Regions from separate parts of the Homo sapiens genome. Here region 1 is linked to region 2. The links come from fine-mapping of genetic effects on gene expression. A gene starts in region 2. The other region holds a variant in brackets. All regions are shown on one strand. Distances are between the middles of the regions.

Region 1 (2,917 bases), 59 kb after region 2:
GTTTGCTTTTGAAGAGCTGGAGCTCCTCCGATTTTCTTTTTTCCTTTATAAAAAAAGTATTGAGGTACAAGTACACACAGGGAAGCACACAGCTTGCACAGCCAACTTTACACATTTCTACAGCCAAGGATTGATTTGCCTCCCCAGTGAAGATGCAGAACCTTCCCAATTTTAAGTGAGAGCACCTCGGTGCTGCCTGCCCAGGCTCGCCCCTGACCTCCTGGCTCACCCTTGCTCTGGGGGCCTGAGCCTGGAACCCCTTCGGGGACAGACTGGGGATCCAGGCCTCTAACCTCATCCTGGGTAGGTCCCCCAAGGGTGCTCAGAGGTCCCTCAAGGCCCTTCTAACAGGAAAGGGGGCTATCTCCGCTCATGGAGTAGGTTCCGATGAGTCTCTAACTCAGTCAGAAACTCTTCCCAGTGTTACTCGACCATGACCTTCAGGCCAATATGTGTCACTTATTTCTGCCAAGACGCCTGCTACAAAAATCCTTGACTGTAGAAGATCTGGTATATTTTCTTAAAAAGTAAATCAATTCTATTACTTTGAATTCTGGACCCTTGAAAGGGGAAAGTGGTGAGTCAAAGCTTCCTCAGGCATTGGATGACACTTTGAAAGGCTTTCTGAGGGGAAAAAAAATTGCATTTTGTCTTCAATCAGTGCCTATAGAATCTCTTTCTCATTTAAGTGTTGGTGAAAGGATTCTATTGTCTCTAACCCAAATAGTCTAAAAGACTTGCATTCATTCATGTATTTACTCGCTCAGCAAAGGTTCGTTGAGCCTCTATTATGTATCAGGCACAATTCATTCTACATGCTTGGGAATTAGCAAGGACAACCCCCTGCGCTCATGGAGCTGATGTTCAGTGGAGGTGGGAGGCATAAGATAACACGTAGGGGAACCAGTGACCAAGACAGTGAAAGGTGCAGGAAATAAACAAGGCAGAGTGTAGTGGACCAGGTGCGGTGGTGGGACCAGAGAAAGGAAGGCCTCTCCTCTGAGACCTCAGGGTGATCAGGAGCAACCAGAGAAGAGCGGTCCAGACAGAGCCACTAGAGATGTGAAGCCCAGCACAGCAAATGGGGAGGAAGGGGCTGCATCGGGGACATGCGAGGGAGGGAGCCATGGATGGGGGAGATGGGCTTGAGAATTAGGCCAGGCTGCAGGGTGAGGGGGCATGCCCGAGACAGGGCTGGCCCTACATTCCCAGGACAGTGGAGGGCTCTTGTCACAGGAGTAACATAATCTGATAGAAACTCCAGATTACAGGAGACCAAGGGGACATGGTGACTGAATGCAATATACTATCTGGAATTTTCCATTGCTATAAAAGACATGATTGGGGCAGGTGGTCAAATCTGAAGAAAATATGTAGATGTTAATATTGCATCCATGTTAATTTCCTGATTTTGATCGCTGAACTCTGGTTAGGTAAGAGGATGTCCTCATTTTTAGGAGATACACACTGAAGTATTTAGGGGCAAGGGGCAACAGGTAATTTACTCTCAATGTTCAGGAGAAAAATGTGATGTGCTTACATGCATGTGGGGCAGGATGGAATGGTGGCAGTTGGAAGGGAGAAGGATAAAGCAAAATGTGGCAAAATGGTAACATCTGG[G/T]TACTCTGGGTAAAGGCTATAAGAAAAGTGTCTCTACTATTTTGCAAACTTTTTGTGTGTCTGAAATTATTTCAAATAAAAAGTTAAAAAATTAAGAGCTGTGCCTGGATTGTGGCTGTGCCTGGATTGTGGCTGTGCCTGGATTTTGGTCAGGAGTAGAAGTCAGGAGTCCACCCCGGGAGACCTGGGATGTGGACAGAGGGCAGACAGGCTTTGGAGGAAGAGGAGGGAGGACTTCCTGATGTGGAAGGTGAGGGAACAGAAGGAATCAAGGATTCTAAAGGATGATTTGGGTCAGAGCAATTAGCGGGGATGGCGCTTCCTGAGAATAGAAGCAGGAGTGGGAAGTGAGATCGGTTGGGGAGGGGCTGGGGTGGAGGAAGAGTGAATGGAGAGTTCTGTTTTGCTGGACCACGAACTCAACTCAGGGGTTATCTAGAAACAAAGGGCTGTCAATTCATTTTAAAGGGCTTTTTTTTAAGTTGAGTTTCTGGAAAGAAACTCCAGGAAGGTGGACTGTACCCACTGGCTGCTTAGAGAAAGCCTGGAGCATGAATATTTAGACATTTGCTTTAATGAAGCACTCTCATAAGCCGGGGAAACAGGGCCTTGAGCATCTGTTCATGAGAGGTGGATGATGGCCCAGTGGCGCCTATGGAGCATCTATGAACACAGGCCAGACAGGGCACAGGAGGGAGGTCCTCAAGCCTAGAGGATGTTAGACTCCCCCAGGGGCTTTTACAAAATACCCATACCAGAGGCCCACCTCTCTGAGTCTGTGGTGGGGGTGCAGTGTCATATTTTTAAAGGGTCCCTAAATGACTCCAGTGTGCAGCTGGGCTTGGGAGCTGCTGAATGACAGCTTGCTCAAAACTGCCAGGGATGACTCCAGCAGTGGTGGGGCAGCCACAGCAGCATCGGGTCCAGCAATGCTCCCCAGGGACAATGCTCTGAAGGACAGCAATCAGCAAGGTGCTTTCTGTCTGTTTAAATTTCTGTTGTAGTTGCAAAATGATCAATTCTCTTTTCTGTTTCCCTTTGCCAGTTTGCCCTGGCACAGGCATCCATGCCTCCAGCCAAATTCAAGGTGAGTGGAGGACAGAGTGTGCTGTAGGGCCCAAGGCCAAGGCCAAGGCCACGGCAGGGTGGAGGTGAGGTGGCCCCGGGTTGTGAGCCTGGGGAGAGCCCAGTCATCATCAGGTGAGTCAGAGCCTTCAACTGACAAACCCAAAGAACTCAGCGAGCTCAGAGACGGGAGGCGGAGCCATAGTGTGGACCCCAGAAGGGCTAGAGGTAG
Region 2 (2,917 bases):
TTCACAAAAAACAGCATGTGGTCATCTTATGCTGAGAACAGGGGTGAGACATATGGGAAGAGGCAGGAAAACCTTCTGCATGGAGTCCTAGGAATAGCTGGGGTGTCCCTCCAAGTGTACTGGGCACTTCCCACCCTGAACATCTATTATAGGACTAACACCATGCCATGCTGGGAAAATATGGTTTGTTCAGAGGACTGCAAAGCTTAGTCACTGCCCATCCTTGGCCATCCTACTCTCCCAACTGAAATAAGGAAACTGTAGGGAGAGTCAAAAAGAGCAGAAAAATAAATTGAGTACTGCAACTAGATGGAGGTGGGAAGCCAAACTGATGTTACAATTTTTCCCTCACTCCCAAATATACATATTAATATAGTCAAACACAGTGTCATCCCTTGAGGGCTGAGTGCTTCTGCTTTCTTTAAAGCAGATATTCTCAAATTCCACTCACTGGCTATTTCCAGTGGACTGTACATTCTTATTGCTTGTAGAGCAATAGTGCCCATGTTTAGGTTTGACCTTAAAAAATGTTTTTGCAAGAACCTATAACTTGTTCATACTTTTTTATTTTTAAAGTATACCTATTCATTTGTCTTTTTCAAAAGCTGGTGAATTTTCTTTGTAAAGATATGGGTAAGCTTGAAGTACTTTGTCCAGCATAAATGGGTCATAAACTGGCAGGGCAGAGGACCCCTACACTATGTGCAATTTTTATGCTTATAGTATGGAAGCATGTTTGGTAACAAAACTAAACTTTAATAATACACTGCTTAGCCCCATATAAAAATACCCCCTGGTAATAAAAATACTGTAACTGTGTAATAATCAATGCTATATTATCTTCTCAAGTTTATTTTGTATTAAAGAGATCATATATTTTTAAAAATTTTTAAAACGCCTCAACAGCTTCACGATGTGAGACCTGTTCCTGTAGTGTGTACCATTAAACCTCTAAAGTCCAGAATTGTACCTAACACTGGGTAGGAATCCAGCATACCATTTGTGAGTGAAAGGATGGTAATTATTATTATCATCTTGACAGCCAGGAACAGAGGTGGGTGGGTACCTGGAATCAGAGTCAAACAATAACTAAGAGTCAAACAATAACTAACAGGAATGATGCCGGATCCGTCCATTGAGACAATAATCATTCTGAGGTTTCTGTTGCAGTCTAGGAAAAATGGAGAAGGCTAGAAGGAGTATTTTAAACTGCTCCAGAACTTTAGATTTAGAAAGAATCTTGGCAGTCAACTCCTCTTCACAGCCAGTTCATTTTTCTTCTCTAGGGTGCCATTGGAGGGCACACTCCCTGAACACTTATGAGTGAAGAAACCCTCCTTTTCACCAGCCATTGGGTTCCTTTTCAAGTTTATTTTTTTAAAATTTTCTTTATATTGAAATCTGCCTCATTTAATTCCTACCTCTGGCCCTACGTTCTGTTTTTGGCACCAGATAGATAAAACCCATACTCTATTTTACACTCATTCAAATCATTGTATTTCCCCCACCGGTGAATATATTACCAAAGTTGGTTGAGTTTCATAATGCAAACCCAAAGGGAAAATTATCTTGAATAATCATATGACAATATGTGGAAAGTTTAGGGGCTGTGTACGCCACCTCATGGTTTTGAACTGTGTGGTTAAAGACGTTGAGAGTTGACAGATTAGTCAGGGATTTTTCAAGAGTATTAATTACAAACTTTGAAATCTTGGTCAGTGAAAGTTCATTTTAGTGCATCTTGCAAATACGATCAAAGGTCTTTTCAGTACTGATTTGATGATGCTTAACCACAGTGTGTGAAGAATGAAGTTTTTCATTAGAAATTACTGGTGTAATAGAGCACATTTTCAGGGAAGATGTATTGTTGGACTATTACAATTCATGCTCTTCCCCCACCATATCCCTACCCTCTATATTCCCCATCCCCTATTTCCTCCACCTTCCTCCTTGGGACCTCACTGAAAACCTGAAATGCTCTGAAAACCTGAAATGGCGTTTTGGACTGCTGCAAGGGAAACTGTGATCTTAACAACATCAGTGCGGCTCAGACATGACCACCATGTGAGGGCAAAGGTGGGGCTGGTGTAAGTGATGTTGTTAAACCTGTAAAAATAAACCATGAAAACCTGGGGATTTACTGTGATTTGGGGAGTGAAACAAATTTACCACTGGCCGAAAACTTGAAAAATGGAGTACAATGTGTAGATCAGAAGAAAAGAAAGCCGTCCCTCTGCCCTTGTGTAGTTTTAGAAAAACAATCTTATTAGTTTGGTAGCTTTTTTTCCTGAAAATAAAAAAAAAAATACATTGGCACCTAAGCCATGGAAAATGAAATAAAAATACACCAGTGCAGCTTCCAAAACACTGACTTGCATCTCCCTCTCCTATCCGCCGGGAATGTCTTATCCCTGCCTTCCAGTGGCTGCCAGAACCAAGGGCATCCGCGGCGTTCCTTGGCATTGGCGTTAACAGCAGATGGATTTTCCGCAGCGGCCAGGCGGAAGATGCCTAGCATTGGTCCGCCGTCTCACTGTACTGAATTTCAAGAATCATGGCCTACTGCCAGCCAGGTCAGGACCGAAGGCGCTAGTCTGGGGAGACTGGAGCAGGTCTCTAGTGGTTCACCTGTTCGGAGGCTCTTCCTGTTCAGTTCCCTCTGCGCGCCAGAGGGTGGCACCCCAGGCACTCCAGAGGTGGAGAGGAGGGGACGACAGGGGAGGCAAAGAGAGAGGAGCGGAGGGAAGGACCAGGGAGGAAGGACCAAGGAGGGAGCTTTAATAAATTCTCAGACCTTGGTCTCGAGTTCCCGGCTAATTTGGGGGCAAAGCCGACCGACCCCACGTCCACGCCCACCCCCTTACGGGAAAAGCCGGGGTTTCCACTGGGCTAGGTGTCAGAGTTGGGAATGTCTAAA

Direction of the effects. Positions count from the first base shown, and alleles are read on the strand shown. Sizes are in standard deviations (SD) of each study's normalised expression.
As copies of G replace T in region 1, the expression in gastroesophageal junction of the gene that starts at base 1,066 in region 2 goes down (moderate effect, 0.58 SD a copy in GTEx).

Evidence for each region. PIP is the estimated chance that this variant, and not a neighbour inherited with it, causes the effect.
Region 1: its variant is the best candidate, but not a certain one, in a credible set for the expression of ACOXL-AS1 in gastroesophageal junction (GTEx, PIP 0.66).

Annotation. Positions count from the first base shown.
Region 1 is chr2:111,173,804-111,176,720 of GRCh38, forward strand. No RefSeq gene overlaps it. Among named protein-coding and RNA genes, the nearest start is that of BCL2L11, 54 kb to the left of the region's middle. The variant G/T (reference allele first, on the strand shown) is at 1,621.
Region 2 is chr2:111,114,523-111,117,439 of GRCh38, forward strand. ACOXL-AS1 (ACOXL antisense RNA 1) reads right to left here and starts at 1,066. Exons shown (of 4, transcript NR_122074.1): 1 at 998-1,066. All of the region lies in intron 17 of ACOXL (acyl-CoA oxidase like), which reads left to right.